Regions from separate parts of the Homo sapiens genome. Here region 2 is linked to region 1. The links come from fine-mapping of genetic effects on plasma protein levels. Region 1 holds a variant in brackets. A gene starts in the other region. All regions are shown on their reverse strands. Region 1 overlaps TMEM181 (transmembrane protein 181). Region 2 holds the start of GOLM2 (golgi membrane protein 2).

Evidence for each region. PIP is the posterior inclusion probability: the model's chance that the variant is causal. Protein levels are from antibody-based Olink assays in UK Biobank. Linkage for the fine-mapping came from a reference panel and not from the study's own genotypes, which makes the PIPs less certain.
Region 2: GOLM2 starts here. The variant in region 1 is fine-mapped to the plasma level of the GOLM2 protein (UK Biobank, PIP above 0.99).

The regions. Positions count from the first base shown.
Region 1 is chr6:158,575,833-158,591,025 of GRCh38, reverse strand. It overlaps TMEM181 (transmembrane protein 181), which reads right to left. Exons shown (of 17, transcript NM_001376852.1): 3 at 10,031-10,086; 4 at 6,982-7,072; 5 at 5,601-5,722; 6 at 1,244-1,354. Among named protein-coding and RNA genes, the nearest start is that of TMEM181, 23 kb to the right of the region's middle. RefSeq lists a silencer at 11,726-11,938. The variant T/G (reference allele first, on the strand shown) is at 5,685.
Region 2 is chr15:44,286,621-44,300,981 of GRCh38, reverse strand. GOLM2 (golgi membrane protein 2) reads right to left here and starts at 12,263. Exons shown (of 10, transcript NM_138423.4): 1 at 11,626-12,263. The coding sequence starts at 11,952. RefSeq lists silencers at 217-511, 4,637-4,931, 11,987-12,346 and enhancers at 12,157-12,451, 12,847-12,916, 12,298-13,204.

The DNA of each region.
Region 1 (15,193 bases):
TCCCGCGACAACCTGGATGGACCTTGAGACATCACGCTAAGTGAAAGCAGACAGTCACCGAAGACCACACGTTGTGTGACTCCATTCACACGAAATGTCCAGACCAGGCAAATCCACGGGGACAGAGAGAACGTTAGTGATTGCCAAGGACTGTGGGGGAGGGAATGGGAAATGATCACTAACAGGTTTCTTTAAGGGGCAATGAAAATGTTCTGGAACAGAATGACTGGACAGCTCCACGACTGTGCTAAAAACCACTGAATGGGCCGGGCGCGGTGGCTCACGCCTGCAATCCCAGCACTTTGGGAGGCCAAGGTGGGCGGATCACCAGGTCAGGAGATCAAGACCATCCTGGCCAACATGGTGAAACTCTGTCTCTACTAAAAATACAAAAATTAGCTGGGCATGGTGGCACACACTTGTAATCCCAGCTACTTGGGAGGCTGAGGCAGGAGAATTGCTTGAACCCGGGAGGCGGAGGTTGCAGTGAGCCGAGATCGTGCCACTGCACTCCACACTCCAGCCTGGTGACAGAGTGAGTCTCTGTCTCAAAAACAAAAACAAAACAAAACAAAAAAAAACCACTGAACGTACGCTTTCATTAAAAGGGCAAGCAAACTTTCTACTTTGATAAAGCTGTTTTTTTTTTGAAGGTATCCATTAGTATCTTCATTTAATATTCACAGCTCTATGAGGCAGCTATTTTACAGATAAGAAAACTGAGGCTCAACAAAATCACGTGAGTCAATGATGGAGGCAGCGTGAGAACCCAGCTCACCGTCCAGTCTAAACCCCCACTCCTCATCACTATGCTGGTTATACTGACTCCTAATGAGTGGAAAGGGGAGATTTCAGCTGGACACAAGAAAGGACAGTCTAACAATTAGAACAGTGCCCTCCCACTCACCGGCAGTTCGGGCAGAGACTGACGACCACTCACAGGGGCCAGAGAAGGGGGTGCTGTGTCTGCTAACCCCTTCACTGCCTTGCAGCTGAACACACTATATACTCTCTATTCTAAATCTCAGACACCTAAGGTTTGCCCAATCTCTATGATATTTAAGCTATTCTTAGTTCTATATACTTAAGAAACTGTAGTTTTCCTATAATTTTTAAAAACTTTACAAGTCCTCCACTGTCCAAATTAACATTATTTAGATGCTGAGATGTATTTCAATCATTGAACAAAGAATGGGAACTAGAACATGAGCCATGGAAACGTGCAGTCAGCTGGTATACTTACTGTGAAGTTCATTCCCTTGATGGGGAGCTTCAGGTGTTCAAATCCCACTATCACTGTATACTGAGTGTAGTTCAGGTAGCCAAGGTGAGCCACAATAATCTCCGCACATTTCTGCAAATACACAGAAAGATTTGCCTTTAAAGAAAGCGAGACTCACGCTCCCGCCAAATAACCCATGAAGTAACACGTTTCAACAGCAGATGGGCAGAACTCATTGTCTCCAGGGAACTCGCCAAAAGCCCAGAGAAAGTCAGATGCCAGCCAAACACAGTTCCTAGAAAGAATGAACCAAATGGGTATTTTTGGAAACATAATATATGATTTACACCAATTAGAATCTTTCTACTTTGGATGACTGAAAATAAGTCACCGTGTAAGAAAGTTAACAGTGCAACGCAAGCCTGACATTTCCATAAATATATAACACTAGAGCACAGGGGAAACGTAAGCTAAGACACGTCAATGCAGATGCCGCGGCCTAATTTGTCCTCCCTGGCCCAATTTTGCGATTGTTATAATAATGAACAGAGTGAATTACACATTCTTCTTTCTCTCCTTTTAACCTGTCACTCTCTACATGGAGCCCTCTTTCCTCTCCATCCTGCTCTCTCCACCCTCCACTCCGAGTCAAAGCAAAGGCTGTGTGCACAGCACCAAGTGCAGATGTGAGGATACGTGTGCTCCACTGTTGACAAGAGCCCTTCCTTTTGTCCTTTAGAATTAAAAGCCAGGTCTCTTCTGCTTTGTTATCCCCTTCCGGAGTGGCAGGGAGGACAAACCCTCATGCAGGGATACAGAGGTGCACCCACCAGCCATGCACACAGAGCCAGCCACTCCTCCCCAGCAAGCTCTGCCCCGGCCCTGCCTTTCGGAATGTCACTCTCCACCATCCTGCTGCTGCCCAGAGCAAACGGGTGGTTCTCTGGCTTTCTAATAGGGCATCGCTCCAATGACTGGTCAAGCCTCGAATGTCTGAGGTCAGGTAAGAAAACAGGTGTGGGTTTTACACAGCAGGCTTAAAAAAGACAAGAAGGTGGCTGGGCGTGGTGGCTCACGCCTGTAATCCCAGCACTTTGGGAGGCCAAGGCAGGCGGATCACTTGAGGCTAGTTCAAGACCAGCTTGGCCAACATAGTGAAACCCCATCTCCACTAAAAGTACCAAAAATCAGCCGGGTGTGGTGGCAGGCGCCTGTAATCCCAGCTACTCAGGAGGCTGAGGCAGGAGAATCCCTTGAACCTGGGAGGTGGAGGTTGCAGTGGGCCAAGATCACGCCATTGCACTCCAGCCTGGGCAACAAGAGCAAAGCTCCGTCTCAAAAACAAACAAACAAAAACAAACAAAAAGACAAGAGGGCAACTGTCAGGGAGGCGGACAAGGAGTGGGGTTAACACAGTGGGGTGCTGACCTAAGGCAAGGGGGAGAAAGCAGAGAGGAGGGGAGTGTGCAGGGGGCTGAAGGCAGCACCAAGGTCACCATCTCAACTCACCAAACACTTCAGCCCACTAGCAGCCCTGGGTCTGCACTGAAGCCCACAGTGCTCCGCAGGGAGGGGCTGCCCTGCAAAGGGGCTAAAAGCCCTCTGGCTGGCCACCCGCCCACCTCCCATTCTCCTATGCCGGAAGCACAGGTCATCTGCTATTTTCATCACATTGGAAAGGGAAGCCAAGGCTTCCTTTCCACCTGATCAGCTCTCATTGCAATCTGCTGCCTGCCCTCTGGGCTTTAAGTGTGTGGTCCACCTTCTCGACAAAACTAAATTCACCTTTCCCCTCTGGCAGTCGGGTCACAGGATGATGCGCAAAGGCAGGGGTGGCTAAGGACTATACAGGAAGGGATGGCTTAAAATCTGTAAATACATTTTTGCTGGGTAGACAAACATCTCTTGCGAGTTTAAGAATTTGTCTCACTTTTCAGGGATGTTTTAATTAACAAAAGAGCTGTATCTCAGGCTGCATATACTTACGAGTTTAAAAAAACTACACCAGCGGTTCCGGCATCCCAAGTTCAAACCACGGTTCTGCTGCTGACAATGATGTACCTCTGAAAATCACGTGATGGTACCTCAGCTTTCCCACCTGCAAGGCGTGGAAAGCCTTGCTACCTAAGTCAGACAATGGCTTTTCTTTACAGTAGAAAAAAAAAAAAAAAGGAAGCCAGGCACGGTGGTGCACACCTGTCATCCTAGCTACTTGGGAGGCTGAAGCAGGAGGATTGCTTGAGCCCAGGAGTTCAAAGCCAGCCTGGGCAACATAGCAAGACTGTGTGTTTAAAAAAAAAAAAAGTAATATAAGAGGGTGGTAAATATCTCTGTAATGTAAAAATTCCATGTTTTTTAAAGCCAGGGCAATGCTCCTTGCAGGGTTAGAGACCTGCGTAGACAAGGAACAGAAGCAAGATATTCCCAAGGGGTAACACAGTGTAAAATGAGGTAGGGCCAACAACGGAAGCGGGAAGAAACCATGAAGATGCGCTGAAGGGCCATTCTCAAGATGCACAGCACGGCGGGCACATCCAAGAAGGAACAGTGCAGACCAGCCAGTACCCTGGCAGCCTGGCCCTGCTTGAAGCAAAGGCTTTAGGTAGGGCAACCCACTTGTCCCGATTTTAAAACAAAGTCCTGTGTGCTGAGCAACCACTCAGTGCAAGCAAACCAGGACGATGGGTCTCAACAGCTCCAAATAAGCAACCCCTGACTAATGGTCCATTGAGCCTCAATCTGAGAGGTGGGTGTCATCAAGCTGTCCAGGTGGGAGTGGCCACCAGGCGCTCGGATAGGAAGAGAGCAGATTCTTGGGCCATGGTCCTGTCTGACACTCACACCTGTTATCCCTTCAGCAGTACTGATCGCACCCCTCCCGCACACAGGCCTCACTGGGGGACGCAGGGATGCCTCAGGCTGCACACATAAGGCACACTCACACGTTATTCACCTTGATCTTTACTGCTTTCCTAAGGCAGGCAGGGAAGGCTTGATCCCAACTTTATAGATGGGGAAAATACACTTTGGAAGCTGACTCATCCCCTGGAAGCAGAATGAGAGGCCAGTCCCACGTGATCCTCCCACCCTACCCTCCCAAAGTGCTGGGATTACAGGCATGAGCCACTGCGCCTAGCCCTTGAATTCTTTCTTGCTAGGAAAAACAGTGCCAGTATATGTATCACTAGTAACTAGGCAGTATCCATGGTGGTTAAGGCCACAAGCTTCAGAATAAAAGGGCACAGGTTTAAATCCTGGGCCCTCCACTTAATATCTGCGTTACCTTGGGCAATGGTTTAGACCTCTCTAAGCCTCAGTTTCTTCTTCTACAAAATAGGCTCTAACAGTAGTTTCTACTTCATGGACTTGCCATGAGGACTGAATGAGACAATGAGTGGACGGTACTTGGCATGACACCCAGCAGAGAAACTACTTGCCATCTGGCTTCTGACATTACTTTCCTAATCCTATAAGAAAATGCACTGCCCTGTTTTGATGCTCTCCAAGTTCTCCACGCTGCCAGTAACCTGTTGTGCCTGAGGTGGACTCCTCGCTCTAGCAGGGATCTGGTTCTGATTCTTTGGACTCTGAACAGAATACAGTGCCAATGAAATCAAGCGTGAGGGCTCATTCCCCACTGTGGACCCAGGTTTCCTATCCCTTAGCCACACTGTGCTCTGAAGTAGATGCTCAAAAAGGTAGGCCCCTGACGCCCAAGAGGCCCAGGTACTTGGCTTCACACAGACGGATTAGGGCATGCATCACTCGGCTGGGAACAACCCAAAGCCTCAGTCAAGAGTGACCATGGAAAATTAGTCAGCCCTGGTAGCATACGCTTGCAGTCCCAGTTACTTGGGAAGTTAAGGCAGGAGAATTGCTTGAGCCCAGGAGTTTGAGGCTGCAGTGAGCTGTGATTGTGCCACTGCACTCCAGCCTGGTTGACAGAGCAAAAACCTGTCTCTAAACAAAATAAAACAAAAAAACCCAGTGACCACAGCCTGTGGCAGACGTTCGTATGAGGAGGCAGCCCATAACATTCATTAGGGACACACTGGGCAGAAGGTCACACACACAGTAAAAACAAGTACCGTGTATGCTCAGGGTGGCTAGCAGTATATGTGTGTGCATGCATATGTGCGTACACGTGTGTTTACGGATGTGTGAATGCATGTGTACGTTTATAAGAATTTTTAAGGGTATCCAACTGTAAAAATAAGTAAGTTTTTTCATGCCATCTTTGGTATGACTCCATTTTTTTCACTTAAGAACAATTTCTCGAAGCCTCTTACCATGCTATCTTTTAGACTGGAAAGTGGCTCTGTAATTAAACGTGTACACAGCCTGAGGACTGACTGTGGGGCTCACCCCACACACTCACCCCTGCACATGTGAGGGTCCTTGTCCGGTTGTGAACTTTGTTATGAATGTACATCGTGGTTCCATCTTGAGCTACACCATCGAC[T/G]TTAACAGTCATGGGAAAGCTTGTCTTAATAGAAGTTTCTACAAAAGAAAAAAATTCAGTGTTAGAGACCATGCCAGGCACATCACACCTACAAAGGTGCCTTCCTGGCTCTGTAATGACCTTGGAGCCAGGAAAACGCTTAAGGTCCTTAGGCCACATTGGCCTCAGCACATTTGAAAATCTCTTAATTGCCCAGCAAAGTAAAAGCCTTTCCATTAGATTCCAACCCAGCACCCAGGGGGTCTATGTCAAAACCTGCACTTCAGACCCATCAGTTTCACTTCACACACAAAAAAAGGGTAAATATTTCATGGCTAATGAACTTATATTTTTAATTTCTCACATACATTTTTAACTTACCAAATTCTATACCAAAAATAGAAATAGATTTCTTATTTCTTCTGATTATAGGTTTTTCTCATTATATTCTCATTTTAAAAAAATCATAAAATATAAAGATAGCATTAAATACTGAGAATTTCACCTAGAGATAATCGTAATTCATATTTCATGTCTATCCTTCCAGACCATTTTCTAGACAAATACGTAGTAATATGAATTTTTTGCTTTCTAAAATGTTACAAAGAGGGGATAATTTTTTCGTAATATATATTTGTTTCACTTCATTTACTGTGGTCATGGGGTTATCTTTTCAAATTCTTTCTCAACCAGAGTGTCTCATGTGAGGCACAGAACAGAAAAGGATTTGGTTATCTTCTCAATTCTCCCTAGGATGATACAAAACTAGTGCCACTGTAGACTGACAGAAGCTAATTCATCATAAACAATGGATGCATTAGGGGAGGGTTTCTCAGCCTCTGCATCACTGACATTTTGGGCCAGATAATTCCTTGTTGTGAAAGTGGGGGAGGTGTCGGCACCTCTGCCCTCTACCCACTAGATGCCTGGAGCACTCCCTCCTCCTCTCCGTGTGTGACGAAATTGTCTCAAGACATTGGCAAGTGTCCCTGGGGGCCAGAACCATTATTTTAGGGCATCAGGTCTTAATTCTCTCCCAGATCCTCACTGAAAAAGGCTGGCAGCTGTAGCGCCGACACCATGCAGCCACTGAGCGGAGCTAACCAGGACTCCACGGAGGACGTCTATCTATCGCAACTTTCTCTCCCACTGGAAGACATTTAAGGGGTTTCCAATTTGTTGCTATGATAAATAATAATGGACATCCTTATACATCTATCTTTGAGCACTTGCTTGTCTGAATATTCTGAAGTCAACATCTAAAATACGATGTTTCTTCGTATAATGAAAAATCATTCCAAAATGTCAAGCTCCATACCTTTTGATTGATCCAACTCAACAACACATGTCAGCCATAGTTGCTGATTGTATGTAGACAGTGGATTTGAAAGTATTTGAATTGGCTTTAGCTGAAGAAAAAAAAACAAAGTAATCCATGTGACCTTTTCATTGAGTCTACCAAATACCTCATCGTTTTAACACACAAAGTTTACTTTTAGCAATAAAGGCTTCAGTGTTAGCTTTGAAACAGAAATATGTGAGGTTTTCCTTCTTTTTTTTATTTTGATGGAGTCTCACTCTGTCGCCTAGGCTAGAGTGCAGTGGCGCGATCTCGGCTCACTACAAGCTCTGCCTCCTGGGTTCACGCCATTCTCCTGCCTCAGCCTCCCGAGTAGCTGGGACTACAGGCGCCCGCCACCACGTCCAGCTAATTTTTTGTATTTCTAGTACAGACGGAGTTTCACCGTGTTAGCCAGGATGGTCTCGATCTCCTGACCTGGTGATCCGCCCACCTCGGCCTCCTAAAGCGCTAGGTTACAGGCATTAGCCACTGCGCCCGGCCATGAGGTTTTCCTTTCAAGAACATAAGTGACATTTTGCCTTTCAGAAGAAGAAACGACTAACTTCCAGCAGCAATTCACGTCTGTCTCTCACAGAAATCTCTAAGCAGACATTTTTCACACTGGGACCCTTGGGGACAATACACTTACTTAAATATCAAGAAAAAAACCATCTTGGAAAAAGAATAAAATGAGCAGAATGATGAGATACATACTAAGACAATAAAGAATACCAAAGGAATGCTTTCATATTTACAAGATAATATATCTCAAGAATTATTATTTTTTGAGACGGGAGTCTAGCTCTGTCACCCAGGCTGGAGAGCAGGGGCGTGATCTCGGCTCACTGCAACCTCTGCCTCCCAGGTTCAAGTGATTCTCCTGCCTCAGCCTCCCAAATAGCTGGGATTACAGGCACCTGCCACCACACCCAGCTAATTTTTCTATTTCTAGTAGAGATGGAGTTTCACCGTGTTGGCCAGACTGGTCTTGAAGTCCTGATCTCATGATCAGCCCACCTCGGCCTCCCAAAGTGCTGGGATTACAAGCATGAGCCACTGCGCCCGGCCAAGAATTATTTCTGAAGTATCCATATGCCAGGCAAATTGCTCTTTGACGTCTGCTATTTTTAGCCTTCTGAAAGAAAATCTTAACACCCCTGGGGAGAAAAATTAGAGGTGATGATGTTGCCAGTGATTCTTCTGCAGTATCTTTTGAAAGACGTAATACTGGTGTTTAATAGCAGCAGGCCACAGAGAGAGTTACTGAAGCAGCCCACCCATGGTTCCAAAGAAAAGCATTATCTGAATGCATCGTCTTTGGAGGTGAATGGGTTTTTTCTTTTTTTTTCTTTTTTAAGACAGGGTCGTGCTCTGTCACCCAGGGCTGGAGTGTAGTGGTGCAATCATGGCTTACCGCAGCATCAACCTCTCAGGATCAAGAGATCCTCCCACCTCAGCCTCCCAAGTAGCTGGGACTACAGGTATGCCCCACCACACCCAGCTTATTTTTAAATTTGTTGTAGAGACACAGTCTCCCTATGCTGCCCAGGCTAGTCTCAAGTGAATGTGTTTTTGTGTCTTAATACTTCTGTCAGGGTCTCAATAAAACTCCCTAGGACTAAAGATTTGCCTAAAAACCATCAAGGCAGGAAATCTCTCCAGGAATGAGCTACTGTCTTAGTGAAGTGAGGATGGTCTCTTGGAAGCAAGTCAGTTCAGTGGAATGGCTGCTGTGTTCAGTGTCAAAGAGAGACTCACACCCTGAGAGACAGAAACTGTAAAAGATGAACTACTATCAGGAAAGCCCACGGCGGCACCTCCTCAAATCAGATCATCACGCCAACAGTGAAAGAAAATAAAGCAATGCAAAGGAAATGTGAAAACAGGCTATGCAGAGGGCCCTTTCAAACTAGCAGTAGCAAAGAGAAAAATCAAATGGTGTAAGTTTTAGTACTTTTTCTTCTTTTGACTTTTTGCAAAATTATAAGGGTAGAAAACTAGCAGGGAAGTGTGAGAACAGAGAGAAGGGGGATTTGGGGTCATACAATCAGATTTAAACTATATATATCATGGTGCCTCGAAGATACAGGGCAACTGTGTTCAGTTTATAGGTAAAGTTATGTTTCACACACAAAAAAAGGTTTAGTTGTCTGGGCTCTCACAGGTTAGTATTTATTCAAGGAAACCAAAATTCTCCAATTGAAAGAAGCTCTGTTTTTCTCTAAAGGTGGTAAAAAAGTTAAGGCTTTTTTTTTTTTTTTTTTTTTGAGACAGAGTCTCACTCTGTCACCCAGGCTGGATGCATTGGCACGATCTTGGCTGACGGCAAGCTCCCCCGCCCGGGTTCACACCATTCTCCTGCTTCAGCCTCCCGAGTAGCTGGGACTACAGGCGCCCCCCCACCACGCCCAGCTAATTTTTTTGTATTTTCAGTAGAGATGGGGTTTCACCATGTTAGCCAGGATGGTCTCAATCTCTTGACCTCGTGATCAGCTCACCTCAGCTTCCCAAAGTGCTGGGATTACAGGCATGAGCCACCTCACCTGGCCAAGTTAAGGTGTATTTTTTAAAGGATTTTTCATTTAAATTGAGTTCACACAAGGAATACAAAGTAATCATTAGAAAGAAATGTACCATTAGAAATCTGACAGAGGCCAATTCTTAACCTGGGCAAATATAAGATGAGACACCTAAGTGGTATCATTATTAAAAATTACAATCTGATAGGACTTACAGAGGCAAGGAATCAGGATGAGTTAGCCACTCTTTGGAAATGAACAACTGCTCCCTAAGAGGTAACACCACCATCTTCCTAAGTACTGAGGTGTTTATTACAGCAGAAATGGTGACTTTAGCAAACAAGAACCCAGATGCCAGCAGCTGACAATGGAAGAAGAAATGTGTTGCCTGAGAAGCCGCAAGGCAAGGGAAGGCTACCTTAAAGACTCTAAGCGGAACCATTTCTCAGTGACCTGAGGTTTATAATGCACCCCACCACCCAGCTGCCACTCAGACCCAGTCTTACCTTTTTGCTATTATTTAGTGAAAAATTAGCCGCAGAAGTCTGGATCACTTTAGGTCCTAAAGTGTAACAGAAAAGGACAAAAGCAGATTATAGCAATATTGATAATTTAGTATTTTTTTCCAAATTCCAAGAAAGACTCACACATTACACGGAGATGACCTTAATTCACCTGGTTTTTCTTTAGAGATTATACAATGTGTAAGTAGAAGATATAAACACACAAACACAGACACAGAATATCCACTCTGCTGTGCTTCACGACTTCCCAACACAAGTCAACCAGCATGACTGGCATACAACACAGAGGGTTTCCACAGGAAACACCCTGCTAGGCTCTCAATGAGAGCACTCTCTACATGCATGGGCCCAAGAAGGCATTAACTATAGAGACTCTGTCTTATATATTCTGTAAAATATAAAGATTTCTTCCAAAACCTAAGACACACTTATCTGCTCATCCAATTAATCCCGTCTTCCAAAAATACTTATTAAGGGCTATAAACATAATATATGCTAATATAAGCAGGAAAGCATAAAGTTTTAACTAATAGGTATACGAACCTCATAGTTTTTTTTCCAATTTTTACTGTGACAAAATATACATAAGATTTGCCATCTTAACCATTTTTTTTCCTACAGATCCAAGAACTTGACATCTTAACTATTTTTTTTCTTTTTGTTCTTGTTGCCCAGGCTGGAGTGCAATAGCGCAGTCTCAGCTCACCACCACCTCCACCTCCCAGGTTCAAGCACTTCTCCTGCCTCAGCCTCCCGAGTAACTGGGATTACAGGCATGCGCCACCACGCCCGGCTAATTTTTTATTTTTAGTAGAGACAGGGTTTCACCATGTTGGTCAGGCTGGTCTCGAACTCCTGACCTCAGGAGATCCGCCCACCTCAGCCTCCCAAAGTGCCGGGATTACAGGCGTGAGCCACTGCGCCATGCCCGTCTTAACCATTTTTAAGCATACAGTTCAGTGGTAGTAAATACGTTCATACTGTGCAACCATCACTGCCATCCATCTCCACAATTCAAAACTGAAACACTGTGCCTATCAAACAATTCCCCATTCCCTTCCCCCAGCCCCTGGCTGCCACCACTCTACTTTCTGTCTTGATGATTTTAACTACTCTAAGTACCCCATATAAGTGAATCTTATAGTATTTATCTTTTTTCCAATGGCTTATTTTACTTAGTATAATGTCCTCAAAATTCATCCATATTATAGCTTCTGTATGAATTTCCTTATTTTTGTTTTTTGTTTGTTTGTTTTTTGAGACAGCGTTTCACTCTTGTTGCCCAGGCTGGACTGCAATGGCAGGATCTCGGCTCACTGCAACCTCTGCCTCCCAGGTTCAAGCGATTCTCCTGCCTCAGCCTCCCAAGTAGCTGGGATTACAGGTGCTTACCACCATGCTCGGCTAATTTTTGCATTTTAGTAGAGATGGGGTTTCATCATGTTGGCCAGGCTGGTCTTGAACTCCTGACCTTGTGATCCACACACCTCTCCCTCCCAAAGTGCTGGGATTACAGGCGTGAGCCACTGCGCCCGGCCGAACTTCCTTACTTTTTAAGGCTAAATATTCCATTGTATGTGTACACCACATTTCATTCCTCTGTCCATTTATCTGTCAATGGATACTGTGGTTGATTCCACAGTTTGTTATTGTGAATAATGCTGCTATGAACATGGGTGTACAAATATCAAGACCCTGCTTTTTTTTTTTTTAATTTTGAGACGGAGTTTCATTGTTGTTGCCCAGGCTGGAGTACAATAGCGTGATCTCGGCTCACTGCAACCTCCGCCTCCTGGGTTCAAGTGTTTCTCCTGCCTCAGCCTCCCAAGTAGCTGGGATTACAGGCATGCACCACCACACCTCGCTAATTTTTGTATTTTTAGTAGAGACGGGGTTTCACCATGTTGGTTAGGCTGGAATCGAACTTCTAACCTCAGGTGATTCACCCGCCTCAGCCTCCCAAAGTGCTGGGATTACAGGCATGAGCCACCATGCCCGGCCAAGACCCTGCTTTCAAATCTCTTGAGTATATACACGGAAGTGAAATTGCTGGATCATGTGGTGCTATTTGCATGGCATAACCTTTTCCATCCTTCTACTTCAACCTATTTGTGTCTTTGGATCTAGAGTGAGTCTCCTGTAGACAGTATATAGTTGGAGTATGGTGTTTTAAAATCCATTCTGCCAACCTCTGCTTTTTAATTGGAGAGTTTATTTACATTTATAGTAATTACTGCTCAGGAGAAACTTGCTTCTGTCATTTTGCTTTCTATATGCCTTCGTTCTCTGTATGTCTCATAGCCTTTTTGTACCTCTTTTAATATCCTAAAGTTATAACACTCTAAATTTATACCAGCTTAACATCAATATGTAAAAATTCTGCACCTATAACAGCTCCATCCCCGCCTCTTTCAACTGCTGTCACAATTGTGACAAAAGCCTATCTTTATATATTGTGTCCAAAAACATAAAATAAGTTTTAATGCATTAGTCTCTTAAACTATGTAGAAAACAAAATGTGGAGTTACAAACCAAAGTTATAATAATACTAGATTTTACAGTAATAGTTGGCTTTTTAAAAATGTGTCTTTCAAATAACGTTGAAAACAAAAAAAATGGAGTTATACACCATTGTTACAATAATATGAGCTTTTATAATTACCCAAGTATTTACCTTTACTGAAATCATATGGCTTCAAGTTACTGTCTAGTGTCCTTTCATTTCAACCTGCAGGACTCACTTCAGCAATACTTGCAGGGCAGGTCTAATAGTAATAACTTCCTCAAATTTTATCTGGGAATGTCTTAACTTCTCCCTCAGTTTTGCTACACGTAGGATTCTTGACTGACAGTTTTGTTTTGTTCTTTGTTTTTTTGTCTTTTTTTTGAGATGGAGTTTCGCTCTTGTTGCCCAGGCTGGAGTGCAATGGCGCGATCTCAGCTCACCACAACCTCCACCTCCCGGGTTCAAGAGATTCTCCTGCCTCAGCCTCCCAAGTAGCTAGGATTACAGGCATGTGCCACCACGCCTGGCTAATTTTGTATTTTTAGTAGAAATGGGGTTTCTCCACCTTGGTCAGGCTGGTCTTGAACTCCCGACCTCAGGTGATCCACCCGCCTCAGCCTCCCAAAGTACTGGGATTACAGGGGTGAGCCACTGCACCCGGCCAACAGTTTTCTTTTAGAACTTTGAATGTATCAGCCCACTGACTTCTGGTCTCCAAAGTTTCTGATGAGGTATCTGCTGACAAACTTACTGAGGATCCCTTGTATGTGATGAGTCACTCTCTTACTGCTTTCAAGATTCTGTCTTTGGCTTTCTACAGTTTGATTATATCTTGGTGTGGGTCTCTTTCAGTTCATCCTACTTTGAGTTTGTTGAGCTTCTTGGATGTTTATATTCACATTCACCAAATATGGGAAGTTTTCAGTCATCACCGCTTGAAATATTCTCTGACCCATTCTCTATCTCTTCTCCTTCTCAGACTCCCAGAGTGTGTATGTTGGTCCATTTGATAGTGTCCCAAAGGTCCCTCAGTCTCTGTTCATTTTTCTTCTGTTTTTCTGTTCCTCAGGCTCAAAAATTTCCACTGTCCTATCTTCAGATTCACTGATTCTTTCCTCTACCTGTTCAAATCTGCCTTTGAATCACTCTAGCGTACTTTTCATCTCCAGAATTTCTTTTTGGTTTCCTTTTAGGTTTTCTATCTTTTTATTCATACATTGTTTTCTTGACTGTCTCCATGTCTCTTCCTTTAGTTGCCTCAGCACCTTTAAGACAGCTGTTTTAAAGTCTCTGCCTAACAGATCTGTCATATGGTCTTACTCAGAGACAGATTCTGACACTTCATTTTTTTCCCTTCGATGGGTCATACTTCATTGTTTGCCTTGTGACTTTTTTTTTTTTTTTTTTTTTGAGATGGAGTCTTGCTCTATTGCCCAGGCTGGAGTGCAGTGGCGCAATCTCGGCTCACTGCAAGCTCTACCTCCCGGGTTCACACCATTCTCCTGCCTCAGCCTCCCAAGTAGCTGGGGCTACAGGTGCCCACCACCATGCCTGGCTAATTTTTTGTATTTTTAGCAGAGATGGGGTTTCACCATGTTAGCCAGGATGGTCTCGATCTCCTGACGTCGTGATCCACCCACCTCGGCCTCCCAAAGTGCTGGGATTACAGGCATGAGCCACCACGCCCGGCCGCCTTGTGACCTTTTGTTTAAAAGTGGACACTTAAATCTAATAATGTACCTCTGGAAACCAGACTCTCCCCTTCCTCAGAGTTTGCTGTTATTCATTTTTGAATTTTTGTTTTTGTTGTTGTTATAGACTGTCTCTGTGCAAAGGATCAGCCTGAGGTTTAAACTTAAGGTTTTCTCTGAGCCTGTGCCTTCCTCTGGGCAGGTGTGGTGACTTTCTAAATTTCCCTGTATTAGCAGTTTTGAATGTCCTGGTCTTCTATGTCTGACTCCCGAGAAAGGAAAAAGGCAAAAACGAAGGGGTAAAAAAGTGCCAGCCCTTTAAATCCCCTGGAAGTAACGTTAGCCAGCGGGGGAGGGGCTTGCAACAATTGAGGGAGGTACAACAACAGCAGCCATTCTTACTTCGTCAAACTTCTGCAATCAGAAGCAGCATCAGTGATCAGAGCACAGATGCCTACTATCTGGAGGACAGGGTCCTTTTTGCCCACCTTGGTTTCTATAAGCGCTAGGAACACACATTTAGCCGCCTGCTATAGGCCTGCAGTGGAAGATGGGTACCTGCTACTGTGCTAAGAGCTGTGCTGACCAAAATTAGCCACCATCTAATGTACAAGCATTCCCTTCGAAGTGGCAAGCCTTCAACAGACTCTGGAGTTCCAGAACAGTTACACCATACAGATTCTGCCACTGCAGCTGTTGGCTAAGTAGAAGACATCGATTCCTACTCCACCATCTTCCCAGAATCCTCTCCAAGCTTCACAGATTCTTACAATGCATTTCTTTAGAGTTTGGCCTTAAAAGAAGTAGTCAAAGGAAACACCGTGAATCTGATTTTAATTTAATTTAGAACTAGATTTGTTCCAAAACGTATCACTATCAACTGGTGATATCAGTTTTTCTGGGCTGCCTCAGTGACCATGCCCAGAAGGATTGTCTGCCAACAATCCT
Region 2 (14,361 bases), not on the chromosome of region 1:
TTGGAAAAGAGAAAGAATCAGACATTAAAAGCATCTGAGCAAAAGCTCTGTGGCAACATTGTTCAAAAGAGGAACTACCTGGCCAGAAACAGTGTAAGAAAATTAGATAAAGTTAATTAAGAACAAGAAAGAGAGCCTTGAAGCACTGTGAGAAACTGAAATTACTGCATGCCCAGTCTGTCCCTAGAAAAAAGCCTGGACTTTGAATTCAAGGAAACTTTAACTCTCTTTTGAGGAAGAGGCTAACATGGGGAACTTTAAGGTCTTCAACCAAAAATTGTAAGGACTAGTTCCTCCTGTTTAATGAGGTCATAAGTCAAAAGGTACTCCCTGTCACTTCAGGAGACAGATGTTACATGCCACACTATAAGAACTGTTTGTTTGCCTCTATGGAGTAAGTAAAAGGGAGCTCCTTGAATGTCCTTTTACCTTTTTTCTGCACAACTAAATCCTAGTCATCATTTTTCAAAAAGCAGCTTGTTTTATGATCTTCATGGAACCTCCTGAGATTACTCAGTCCTTTATCAGGAGAGTAAGAAAAAACAGAGAAATACAAAAATAAGAAAGGGAGACAAAGAAAAGTGAAAACTTGTTTCAAAGATCATTTTAGTGTATAGCACAGTAAGTGCCCAATATATTTAATAAATTTTTGTCAACTGAATTAATATACTTGGGTTTCAATAGAATAATACAAGACTAAACTTCTTCCTTCCTTCCTCCCTCCCTTCTTCCTTTCTTTTCTTTCTTCCCTCTCCCTCTCCCTCTTTCTTCCTCTTTCTCTCCTTCCCTCCTTCCTTCCCTCCCTTCCTTCCTTCCTTCTCTTTCCTCCTCCCCTCCCCTCCTCTCCTCTCTTCTTTTCTTTTTTCCTTTTCTTTCTTTTTTTGAGACAGGGTCTTGCTCTGTTGTCAGGCTAGGGCACAGTGGCACAATCATAGCTCCCTGCAGCTTCAAACTCCTGGGCTCAAGTGATCCTCCAGCTTAAACCTCCCAAGCAATTAAGACTATGGGCATGTGTCACCATGCCCAGCTTTTTTTTTTTTTTTTTTTTTTTTTTTGCTATGTTGCCCAGGCTAGCCTCAACCTCCTGGCCTCACATGATCCTCCTGCCTCAGCCACCCAAAGTGCTGGGATTATAGGCATGAGCCACTACACCTAGCCCCAAATTTCTTCAAGATTAGCTATACCAATGCACCCATGAAAGAAAGGAACCAATATTATTAAATGTCAAGCTTTGTATGGGACAGGCCTCTAAATATTTTACTTCATGAATCCTCTTCATTTTATGAGTGAAGAAACAGGCTTAAGGAGAGGTAACATAATGGTAGAATTATAAACTCAAGTCTGTTTGACTCCAAAAACCCTTGTTCTTTCCAGTGAACCATACTGCCACACAGTATATATTATATAAGAGTAGTTATCTAGTCAATTTGGGAGGCCGAGGCGGGCGGATCACCTGAGGTCAGGAGTTCAAGACCAGCCTGGCCAATATGGTGAAACACTGTCTCTATCAAAAATGCAAAATTTAGCTGGGTGTGGTGGTGCGTGCCTGTAATCCCAGCTACTCGGAAGGAAGAAGCAGGAGAACCACTTGAACTCGGGAGGTGGAGGTTGCAGTGAGCTGAGATCGCGCCACTGCACTCCAGCCTGGGCGACAGAGCGAGACTCTGTCTCAAAAAAAAAAAACAAAAACAATTATCTAGTCAAAAAATCAAATTAACTTTTAAGTATGCATTTGTGTATTTGTTTCCTAGGCTGATATAACAAAGTGCCACAAACTGAATAGCATAAAGCAGAAATGTATTGTCTCACAGTGCTAGAGGATGGTTTCAGAGGCTAGAAGTCCAAAATCAAGGTGTTGGCAAAGCCCTGTTCCCACTGGAGCCTCTAGGGGGAGGCTCCTGGCTTCTGGCTTCTGGTAGCCCTGGGCATTCCTTGGTTTGTGGAAACATAACTCCAATCTCTGCCTTTATCTGCCATGCGGTCTCTGCAATGTGTCTGTGTGTCTCTGTGTATTCATGCACCTGGTGTTCTCCCTAATTCTATTTTTTTTTCTTATAAGGATACCAGTTATAATGGAATAGGGGCCACCCTAATCCAGTATGACCTCATTTTAACTTGATTACATCTGCAAAGACCCTATTCCCAAACTAAGATAACATTCACAGGTGATTTAGACTTCAATATATCCTTTTAGGGGATACAAATCAACCTCGTACATTTTGTAACAGCACTAAGAACAATTTTTCCCGCAGGAAAAAATTTAAAACATAGTCCTTCCTCAAGGAACTTAAAATTTCGTTGAGAAAACGAAGTTCACAAACAATAAGCTATTAGTAAAAAATGAACAAAATAAGTTAATGAAGCTCAAACAATAAATGTAAATGGTGTATAAAGAAGGAAAAGCATGGCTGGGAGCAGTGGCTCACACCTGTAATCCCAGCACTTTGGGAGGCCCAGGTGGGTGGATCACCTGAGGTTAGGAGTTCGAGACCAGCCTGGCCAATGTGGTAAAACCCCATCTTTACTAAAAATACAAAAAAAAAAAAAAAAATTAGCCGGCCATGGTGGTGGGTGCCTATAATCCCAGCTACTTGGGAGGCTGAGGCTAGAGAATCACTTGAACCTGGGAGGCGGAGGTTGCAGTAAGCTGAGATCGCGCCATTGCACTCCAACCTGGGCGACAAGAGCAAAACTCCATCTCAAAAAAAAAAAAAAAGAAAAAGAAAAGAAGGAAAAGCATATTCCAGGTCAGAAGTCCCAGGGGGCTTCATAGTGGACATGGATCAGAAGCTGGATAAAAGATTGGTAGAATAGGCCAGGTGTGGTGGCTCATGCCTGTAATCCCAGCACTTTGGGAGGTCAAGGTGGACGGTTCACAAGGTCAGGAGTTCGAGACCAGCTTGGCCAACATGGTGAAACCCCATCTCTATTAAAAATACAAAAAAATTTAGCCAGGCCTGGTGGTGCGTGCCTGTAATCCCAGCTACTCAGGAGGCTGAGGCAGGAGAGTCGCTTAAACCCGGGAGGCGGAGGTTGCAATGAGCCAAGATTGCGTCACTGTACTGCAGCCTGGGCAACAGAGCAAGACTCCATCTCAAAAAAAAAAAAAAAAAAGGCCAGGTGCGGTGGCTCACACCTGTAATCCCAACACTTTGGGAGGCCAAGGCGGGTGGATCATGAGGTCAGGAGATCAAGATGGAGACCATCCTGACTAACATGGTGAAACCCCTTCTCTACTCAAAATACAAAAAATTTAGCTGGGCCTGGTGGCGGGTGCCTGTAGTCCTAGCTACTCAGGAGGCTGAGGCAGGAGAATGGTGTGAACCCGGGAGGCGGAGCTTGCAGTGAGCCAAGATCACACCACTGCACTCCAGCCTGGGCGACAGAGCAAGACTCTGCCTCAATTAAAAAAAAAAAAACAAAAAAAAATTGGTATAATAAATATACAGAAAAGAGGCAAGAAACTAAGAGTCAAACAGCAGGAACAAAGGCACAGAAACAGGAATTAACATGACACAGAAAGGCAGGTGGGAAGGCAAAAGTAAGCAAAACAATCAGCCTGAAATACAATTTGGGTCAGGAGATAGTGGGAGACAAAGGTAGCTAGAGCCATTCTATGGAAGACCTTAAAGATGAGACAGCAGAATTCTAACCTGATGTAGTCAGTGAGTCATACAGCCACTCTGAAAATAAGGTTTGAGGAAGTTCAGGCTGGCTTCACAGGAGAACTGACAAAAAGAAATGGAGACCAAGGAAAGGGGACTAGTTAGGGATCTGCCAAGTTCTCTATTCTGCAGTCAGAATGACGTTTTTTTTAATTCGATCAAGTAACTCCTCTGCATGTTGAAGCACTCAATATGATACACTGAAGGAATCAAAGACAACACCAAATTTCTAACCTCAGTCTTAAATAACAGTTGCATGGGCATCATTTATAGGAACCAAGAAGGTAGGAAAGGGATATCGTTTGGAAGAGTTATCAGTTTTGATTGGTTTATGAATAATTTGAGGTAGAAATTACAGTTAAAAGTTGGCCAGATTATGGCTGGTGAGGCAGAGGCAAAGGCAGGAATTATCATGTGCAGCATATTAGAACTGTAGAAGGTTGATACTCAAATTACAGAAGAACAGGCAAGCTCTAGGGAGTCAGCTAAGACACCTATGGGAGGAGCCAACTAAGCCTAACTGGAAATGAACCAGGAAACTGAAAACAAGCAAATAACAAAAACAGTCAGACATTCAGGAGCAAAGGGTGAGGCAGGTAGGCTAGGGCTGGGACCAGATCTTGGGCAGGAACACAGACAGAGTCCCATCCTGGAAAAAAGGCAGAAAAGAAATAAGGAAGTAGCTGTAGAATAACAATGTAGTAGGCACTGTTTTAAGAATTTTAATCAATTTACTCAAACCTCTCAAGAATAAGAGAGACTACTATTATATTCCAAAATTTTCCCCCAAAAAGCATTTTTTTGTAATACGCTTCTCATCCTCCTTTCTGACATATGACCTTTTCCCCATTCAACTAAAGGCATAGGCTGCCTCAAGGAAAATTATGGTTGTTAAAGGGAAAAAAGGTCATTTACTATTCAGCTTCAAACCTCAAAACTGATGTGTGTGTATGTGTGTGTATGTGTGTAATAAAACGACAATTTTGAGGACTTTTTCTACATTCTAACAGCTCCTTTTATTTATCAAGAGCTTGACGTGCCACAGCTGGACCACATAGCTTTAGTATGAGCTACAGTTTGCAAGAATCCAAGTTTAGGAGCCAAGCACAGTGGTGCACACCTGTAGTTTCAGCTACTCAGAAGGCTTAAACAGGAGGACCTTCACTTGAGACCAGGAGTTCCTGGCTGTGGTGTGCTATGATCACACCTATGAATAGCTACTGCATTCTAGCCTGGGCAATGTAGTAAGACCCCATCTCTTTAAAAGACAAAGAGAGAGAGAATAATAATCAAAGTTAAGAGACATGCCCTGTACTGAGGAAAGAGAAATAAGGACTTTTCTGATAAAAGAGGAAATAAAAGGGTGTCTGTGTGTGTGTGTGTGTGTGTGTGTGTGTGTATGTGTGGTGGATCTCCCTTGTTCTAAGATGAACTGTGTTTCCCCCAAATTCACATGTTGAAGTCCCAGCCTCCAGGATCTCAGAATGTAACTGTATTTGGAGACAAGGTCTTTAAAGTGCTTAAGTTACAGTGGGTCTAATCCAATATGACTCGTATCCTTTTAAGAAGAGGAAAAGACACCAAGGATGTGTGCATACAGAGGGACTATCATGTCACAATAAAGCAGCAAGAAGGTTGCCATCTGCAAGCCAAGGAGAGAAGTTCAGAGAAAAACAACCCTGCTGGCACCTTGGTCTTAGACTTCCAACCTTCAAAAATGTGAGAAAATAAATTTCTGCTGTTTAAGCCACCTAGTCTGTGGCATTTTGTTATGGCAGCCCTAGCAAACTAATACACCCCTCCAGGCTGAAACCCTTTAGAGGGAAGTTTAAAAAATCAGAAAGTTTGAGGGAATCTCAGAGAAGTGGGGGTTGTTTCTCACTTCTTTGGACAAGACAGGAGCAACTTAAAGCTCCCTTAAAGAATTTCCATGTTCAAGGCCGGATGTGGTGGGTCATGCCTGTAATCCAGCACTTTGGGAGGCCAAGGTGGGCAGATCACTTGAGGTCAGGAGTTAAAGACCAGCCTGGCCAACATGGTGAAACCCTGTCTCTACTAAAAAATCAAAAATTAGCCAGGCATGGTGGCATGCACCTGTAGTCTCAGCTACTCAGGAGGATGAGGCAGGAGAATCACTTCAGCCCGGCGGGTGGAGGTTGAAGTGAGCTGAGACTGCGCCACTGCGCTCCAGCCTGGGTGACAGAGTGAGGCTCCATCTCAGAAAAAAAAAAAAAAAGGAATTTATGTGTTTAGTAACCCAGGTAACAGACTGGAAGTGACAGAATGGCATAATAATGTGAAAGAAACCAAATATCACCTTTCTGATTCCTCTGGAGAAAGGATTCCTTGATTTCCAAAGATAACCTTATAGTAGCAACGAGCATATCTGCCAAGCAGACCTTGGTTTCTTTTTTTTTTTTTGTGAGACAGAGTCTTACTCTGTTGCCCAGGCTGGAGTGCAGTGGCACAATCTTGGCTCACTGCAACCTCTGCTTCCCAGTTCAAACGATACTCCTCCCAAGTAGCTGGGATTACAGGCGCCCCCCACCATGCCCGGTTAATTTTTGTTTTTTTTTGTGGTGGTGGTGTTTTTTTTTTTTTTTTTGAGATGGAGTCTCGCTGTCCTCCAGGCTGGAGTGCAATGGCGTGATCTCAGCTCACTGCAACCTCTGCCTGCCGGGTTCAAGCAATTCTCCTGCCTCAGCCTCCCAAGTAGCTGGGACTACAGGTGCGCACCACCATACCCGACTAATTTTTTGTATTTTTAGTAGAGACGGAGTTTCACCATGCTAGCCAGGCTGGTCTCGAACTCCTGACCTTGTGATCTGCCCACCTCGGCCTCCCAAAGTGCTGGGATTACAGGCGTGAGCCACCGTGTCTGGCCCAATTTTTGTATTTTTAAGTAGAGATGGGGTTTCACCATGTTAGTCAGGGTGGTCTTGAACTCCTGACCTCAAGAAATCCACTAGCCTCAGCCTCCCAAAGTGTTGGGACTACAGGCGTGAGCCACCGTGCCCAGCTGCAGACCTTGGTTTCTAATGCCATTCTCCAATAAAAGGAACCAAGGTTCCTTGGAGAAATGGTTGACTCTAGGGCTGGAGTAGGAAACGTATAGATAGGCCTAGAGCATCTAAAAGTACCAAAAAGTAAGAAAGGGGTATGTCACAATGAAACTGGGTGTAGGGTATGTGGAAATTCTCTGTACTTTCTGGCACTATAAAAGTAAGAAGGGGATACAGGAGTTAATGAAGGAGCTCTCCAACAGCCAGAGCCAGAACAATTTGAGCAACAAAAAAATAAACTAATATTGGATTATAAGCCAAAGTACAAAATAAATATCCATGAGTCCATACCGATACAAGTAAATTATTAAGTTAATAAATGAGGGAGAAGAGACAAATCTCCTTTGCAGAAGAATTCCATATAGTTTATGTTGATACTCTGTCCTTAAGGAGGAAAAACATAACTACCCACTCATTAAGTGAGGGTGAACATACTTTCTTCCAAAGTGTACAGTATGGAAACAGATTTTTTTTAAGAGTACATTATAGTGGAGAAACCTGACAAGCACTATCTCACGCCAGGTGATAGAGGTTAACATAAGTAGTGATAAATCATTTTGAAAAACATACCCATGTTATGATGTGTTGAGATTGGTACTTTACTTCTGTGGTCTTTGTCCGAAAACCCACAACTCCAGTCTAATCCTGAGAAAAGACTCAGACAATTCCCAATTGAGGGACATTCTATATAAAACACCTAATCAGTAATCCTTAAAATTGTCAAGATTATCAAAAACAAGAAAAGGTCTAAAAAACAAGGAAAGGCTGAAAAGAAGCTTCAGAAGACATAATGTCTAAATGTAACGTAACTCTGGATGAGATCCTGGAATTAAAAAAGGACAGCAGGCGAAAACTGAAGAAATCTGAATAAAGTACGGACTTTCATAATAAGATATCAATACTGGTTCATTAATTGTGACAAATGCATCATACTTATGTTAAGATGTTAATAATAGGGAAGACTGGGTGTGGGGTATATAAAAACTCCCTGTACTATCTTTGCAATAATTTTCCAGATCTAAAACTGTTAAGTGGCCAGGTATGGTAGCTCACACCTGGCACTTTAGAAGGCCAAGGCAGGAGGATCACTTGTTTAGTTTTCCAGATCTAATTTTCCAATAATTTTCCAGATCTAAAACTGTTAAGTGGCCAAGTATGGTGGCTCACACCCAGCACTTTAGAAGGCCAAGGCAGGAGGATCACTTCAGGCCAGGAACTGGAGACCAGCCTGGACAAGATAATAAGACCCTCATCTCTACCAAAAAATAAAAAATTAGACCATCATGGTGGCATGCACCTATAGTCCCAGCTACTTGGGAGGCCGAGGTGGGAGGATCGCTTGAGCCCAGGAGTTTGAGGCTGTAGTAAACTATGATCGCACCACTGCTCTCCAGCCTGGGTGACAGAGCAAGACCCTGTCTCAAAACAAACAAACAACAATAACAATAAAAAAAACCCTGAAAAACTGTTAAGTTTAAAATACAGAGACCAAGACTACCCTTTCTACTAAGCAGCTCAGAGAGTCCTCATTAACCCCAAGAACAGACATTCACAAGCAGCCCAAGAAAGTTGTTATAGCCAGCTCAAAATACAGAAGTGGCACACCAAGTGCTGTGGCACACACCTAGAATCCCAGCACTTTGTGAGCCCAAGGCAAGATCACTTGGAGCCAGGAGTTTGAAAGCAGCCTGGGCAACATAGCAACACCCTATCTCTACAAAACTAAAAAAAGAAAAAACTTTTAAAAATATACAGAACTAGCCGGGTGCGGTGGCTCACGCCTGTAATCTCAGCACTTTGGGAGGCCAAGGCTGGTGGATCACGAGGTCAGGAGATCGAGACCATCTTGGCTAACATGGTGAAACCCCATCTCTACTAAAAATACAAAAAATTAGCCGGGCATGGAGGTGGGCGCCTGTAGTCCCAGCTACTCAGGAGGCTGAAGCAGAGAATGGCGTGAACCCAGGAGGCGGAGCTTGCAGTGAGCCGAGATCACACCACTGTACTCCAGCCTGCTTAACCGAGCGAGACTCTGTCTAAAAAAAAAAAAAAATATATATATATATATATGTATGTATACACATATACACACACAGAACTGACATTCAATAAGAGATACAGTCTTGTGAGCCAGCTGCATAAAATATTAGCCAAACACTTAAAAGTAGTTAAGATACCCAGGGCAATATTTCCCAAACTAGTGGGCTTTGCTATATTATTCTGTGCCATAATAGGTAGGCCATGAAAATAGTAACCTGTGATCAAATAAACTAAACAAGACTGAGTTAAACAAAATTGAATAGCCTTCTTTATTAATGGATTTCTCAGAGCTTTTATATTCCAGCAGGCATTATGAATTCCAAGAGGAGGATACACTAACATTTCCCTCCAAAAAAGGTTTTCATTTTTTTCTCCTCACCACCTAAGAAATATTACAAGAAGGGTATTCTGTTTAACACTACTTTGGGGAATACTGCTCTTATGGGAGAGCAAAGGCTCAATAACAGAGTCCCTTACTAGGTGACTGGAAAGAAAAAATAAATCCAGCAAAGAATATAGTGAAGAAGATAAGACTGGAGAGTCCAGTATAACAGAAGCAAGAAAGAAAATAGTTTCCAAATAGCTAGAGACAATCAACAGGATCAAACTACTGGGAGGTCAAATACAGTAAGAATAAAAATATTCTTTGGTTTTGACTAGGAAGACTGCCATTTGTGACCTTCAAGAGAATAGTTTCAAAAAAGGGGAGGAAAGAAAGATGGCAGACATTTTAAGATTAGGATGGTTATGAAAAAATAGGTAGATGGAACATTTGTAGACCATCAATAATTTGACTTTAGCAATGAAAGTGAAAAAACAAATGGGTTGGTTGGGAGAAAGGAATATACAGATTTTTTTTCCTTTACTGAGAACAGGGGACACCCACATACTGTTGAAGGTAAAAAGTGAAACAAACTGAAAGAGACAGTTCAGTAGAGCTGGGCAAGGTGGTGCACACCTGCAGTCCCAGCTACTCAGAGGCTGAAGCAGGAGGATCACTTGAGCTCAGGATTTCAATGCTATAGTGCATCATGCCTGTGTAACAGCTACTGCACTCCAGCCTGGGCAACACAATGAGACCCTGTCTCTTTAAAAAAAAAAAAAAAAAAAGAGGCTGGGCATGGTGGCTCACACCTGTAATCCCAGCACTTTGGGAGGCTGAGGCGGGCGGATCACCTGAGGTTGGTAGTTCAAGACCAGCCTGACCAACATTGAGAAACCCCTTCTCTACTAAAAATACAAAATTAGCCAGGCGTGGTGGTGCATGCCTGTAATCCCAGCTACTCAGGAGGCTGAAGCAGGAGAATTGCTTGAACCCCGGGGGGGCGGAGGTTGCAGTGAGCTGAGATCACGCCATTGCACTCCTGCCTGGGCAACAAAAACAAAACTCCGTCTCAAAAAACAACAACAACAACAACAACGACAACAACAAAAAGTCCAATGGATGAAAGAATGGAATCAAGAGTATTAATTACAACAAGAGACTTTCCTTTGAGACCAGAGAGAAGAATGTGAATTGTAATGCTCAACCATGCCAAGTAGGAAGACCTTACTTTAATACTCCAAACTTTCATGGATTTCTACCTACTCTGCCCGAGAGTTTTTCAGTCTTTAGAGTTAAGCATGCAGCGCACATATAAATGTACTGATTCCTTGACCCTATCATAGCATGTCTATGTTATGGTGAAGAGGAGGGGGTTATAGGGAAGCACTTAGCTGAGGGCCTTAATCTTCATGAAATAAGAAAGCCAGGTAGAGGCTGTCAACAGGAAAGTTAGAAGCTCACAGACAGTTTAATTCATAATGACTTACCCTTAAGTGATTTTGATATGCAAAGTAAAACTTGTAATTATAATGGGCATTTACACACAAAAATGTGAAGATTACCAAAGAAGTGTATAGAAAGGCATCTACTATCCTGCCCAGAAATTTTCATAACTCTACTATACCTACAGAAGTTGCTAAGTCATAAACTATTAATATAGTTACCAATGAGCTAATGAAAACAAGGATTATTTAGTAGCAAGTATGATTACAGTTCAATTTTAAACTTTTTATATTTAAAACTTTGTATAGTTTTCCATCTGCATAAAACACCAACCCTAATAGCAACTTAGCTATACAAAATTTCATTCTATTTTCTTTCAATGAAGACACTGACATGACATTCCACTGCTTAAAATTTATTTTCAGATTCTAATCTTTTGGCTGATTTCATTAACAATTCAAATTGAGTAGATAATGATGGATCAACTATGTCCAAGACACAAGTGTGTCTCACATATAGCTCGAGGGCCCATCTATCATAACATTTTGATCACAAAAAGGCAGTCATAGCTGATTATTTAGTTATTCAATACATCACCCTATAGAGATTTTAAAAGTCACACAGCTTAAAAAATATATGATGACTACCATAAGTAGAGGAGTCAGAGGCGGCTTCGTTCTTTAAATAACGAAATTAATATTGATCAGTGTGCACGGAATAAAAATGAGACAATAACCACACCAAACCTGGCAGTCGCCAGATTTGTGTGTCTTTGAAGGTAAGGGGGCCACACAGGCCAGATGATTACTACTGCCAACTCACCAGCTGAGCTTAGAGAATAGGCAGCATCTGCACACAGTCCACTCTTGAGAACCAGAATTTACAGTCATTTTTTTCTGGCAGGGACCAGAGAACGTGGCACTGATAAACTGGGAAAAGTCTGACAGAAACAGGGTTGTTGGGGGTGAAAGGAGCCTTCAGGACTGAAATACTGGAAGGCATAAGACAACAGCTAGCGGATTAACATCCCGCCCCAGACCCCGGGGAGAAAAGAAACCATGGGGTTTGAAGAGAAAAGGGTCGTCCTTACCTTGTCATCCTCGCATCTCTTCCCGAGGCCCTCTCTGGCCTGCAGCCGGCTGCTGAGGCGGCCGTAGTCGGCCTCCTTCTGGTCGATCTGTTTCTTGTGCGTGTCCACCAACAGCAAGAGGTCCGAATTGCGCTTTTCCAGCCGCCCGCGGGCCACTTCGGTGCGCTGGACCTGGCCCTGCAGCTCGGCCACCTCCTCCTGAAGCAGGACGTGGCGGGAGGAGATGCTCCAGTAGTTGAAGGCGAGGACGACGATCACCACCAGCAGCACCACCAGCACGAGAGAGGGCAGGCGGCCAGCCCGCCGGTTGGCCCCGAAACCCACCATGGGGCCAAATCGGGCTGTACCCTAGGGGCCTCGCCGCAGACACCTGCAGGCAGAAGCCCAGGCCTCGGCTGGAGTTGCCCGGCGGACACGGCCCCAGGGCCGGCCGAGGGAGGAGGCGGGCTTACCGGTCGGCTGCGAGCCGGAGAAGGGGGCGGGGCCGCAAGCCGCAGGTCCCTCCCCGCCCCCCTCCTCAAATCAGGCCAAAACGCGTTCCGGAGGCTTTGAACCCGACCCTGCACCTGCCCAAGGGAACCGGGAGAACCCAGCTGCCAGCGTCCCCCAAACCCAACACCTCACGGTTGGGAGGCGGGGAAAAAAACCGGAAAGGGGCGGATGTACCCTGGCCCCACCCACTAGCTGGGGCCGGGTCGTCTAGGGGACCATTTCCGAGTTTCCGTCGACACCCCTCTTGTCGCGAGAACGTTGCTTCCTCTCGTCTCTCTCTCTCTCTCTCTCTCTCTCTCTCTCTCTCTCTCTCTCTCTCTCTCTCTCTCGCTCTCTCGCTCTCTCGCTCTCTCGCTCTCTCGCTCTCTCTCGCTCGCTCTCTTTCTCTCTCTCTCTCTCTCTCTCTCTCTCTCTCTCTCTCTCTCTCTCGCTCTCTCTCTCTCTCGCTCGCTCGCTCTCTTTCTCTCTCCCCGCCCAGAGTTTTCTCTGTCGCGTAGGGTGTTGTGTTAATTTTGGCGGTCTCAGATGTCTCAGGTACCTGGGTCGGAGTCCTTTCTGTTGTTATCTACTGGATTCCCTTGATTCAAGGCCTAGGGAGTTCCTGCCCTACACTGGCCCTCGCGAAAATATTTGTCTTTGAGGACGTCTGGGGCTGCGACCGCGGAATAGAAAAAAATAGTAGGTGAGCTGCTGCCAAAAAGGAGCGACTAGAAAGGTTTTGTACTTGCTTCTGTAGAAGGGGAATTTCTCTTTTGTGCTAATGATGTGGAAAGAAAAAACAAAAAGACTGTAAAATAGCGATGCCCTAAACATAATGGAGAAAAGCGGGAGAAACCAAGCTTTAGGACTGAAAGGGGTGGTGCCAGTCTCGTTTCCTAGGTTACTGCTTTCACGAACCGAAAGAATTTCAGAATGTGGCGAGCTCCAATTTTTAAACGCACTGCTGCTTTTGCCTCAGCTGGGCTTCCAAACAGAAAGTCCAGAAGCTGCCCTCGATGAATCGTAACTAATGCACTGTTACTGCCAGCGAACACATTCCGGGTTAGAAATAATAGCTCTAACAAATTGTTTTGCGCGCCTAGTCTCATATTATCTTCTCAACAACGCAATTTTACAGATGAAGAATCCAAGACACATAGATGTTTGGGAACTTTCTCTTATCTGGTTTTAAATAGGCTTGAATCCAGATCATTGAACTCTAAACACCAGTGCTGTCTGCATATAGCAGATTGTTTATATGTTAAGTGTGAATTTCAGTAGTGCAAAAAAAAAAACAAAACCTGCCTCTTTTTTTTTTTTGCATAATTATTTTGTCCGTGCATAGAGAAATAAAAAGGTACTGGCTCTAACCTGTTTAAGGAGAGGATGGGGTTGCCTTATTTTTCAGACCTCAGGTTGAAGAACTTCCATGAGTATAAAACCTCAAGAAGGAAAAACCTTGGTATTTTTTATTCGAATCAGAGTGATATGATTTTGAGGCAGGAAGACTTGTCATCTTAATTATTCTGTGCTTCCTATCCTCAAAAATTATTTCCCTAAGTCCCGTAGTAGCGTAGAATTATTGCATCTTCAAAGAACAATGATTACTCTCTCAGATGCAGTACAGAAAACCACCACCAAAATTATTAATACTTGGTTCACATCAGAAGTGAGCTCTGGCTTCATAAGATCTAACAAATCCTCTCCACTCTCAGATGACAAGCCGACTTTGGCAAAAGGAAGCAAAGCAAAAATGAGAAATCATTAACTATAAAGAGCCTTTCCATCTCTGCTTTCCTCAACTCATATTGGCCTTGCTCTGCTCAACCAGCAATCGAAAATTATTCTAGGCCGGGCGCGGTGGCTCACCCCTGTAGCCTCAGCTACTCGGGAGGCTGAGGCAGGAGAATCACTTGAATCGGTGAGGCAGAGGTTGCAGTGAGCCGAGATCGTGCCATTGCACCCCACCTTGGGCAACAGAGTGAGACTCCGTCTGAAGAGAAAAAAAAATTATTCTATAAAGTTATGTTAACTACTTAAGATTTACTGTTCCCACGAGTGTTTTCATTTTTACATAGGCAAATCTAAAAGTATAAATATTGTACAAAACACATACACATACATTTCCTCAACAGATGTTTAATAGAACTATTGGGTACCATTATTCCATTTTACAGGTGCAGAGGTAACTTGCCGAAAGTCATTTATGTAGTAAATGGCCGAGATGACCAATCCTCTTTCCACTCTTCCCCAGAGGATTTTTTT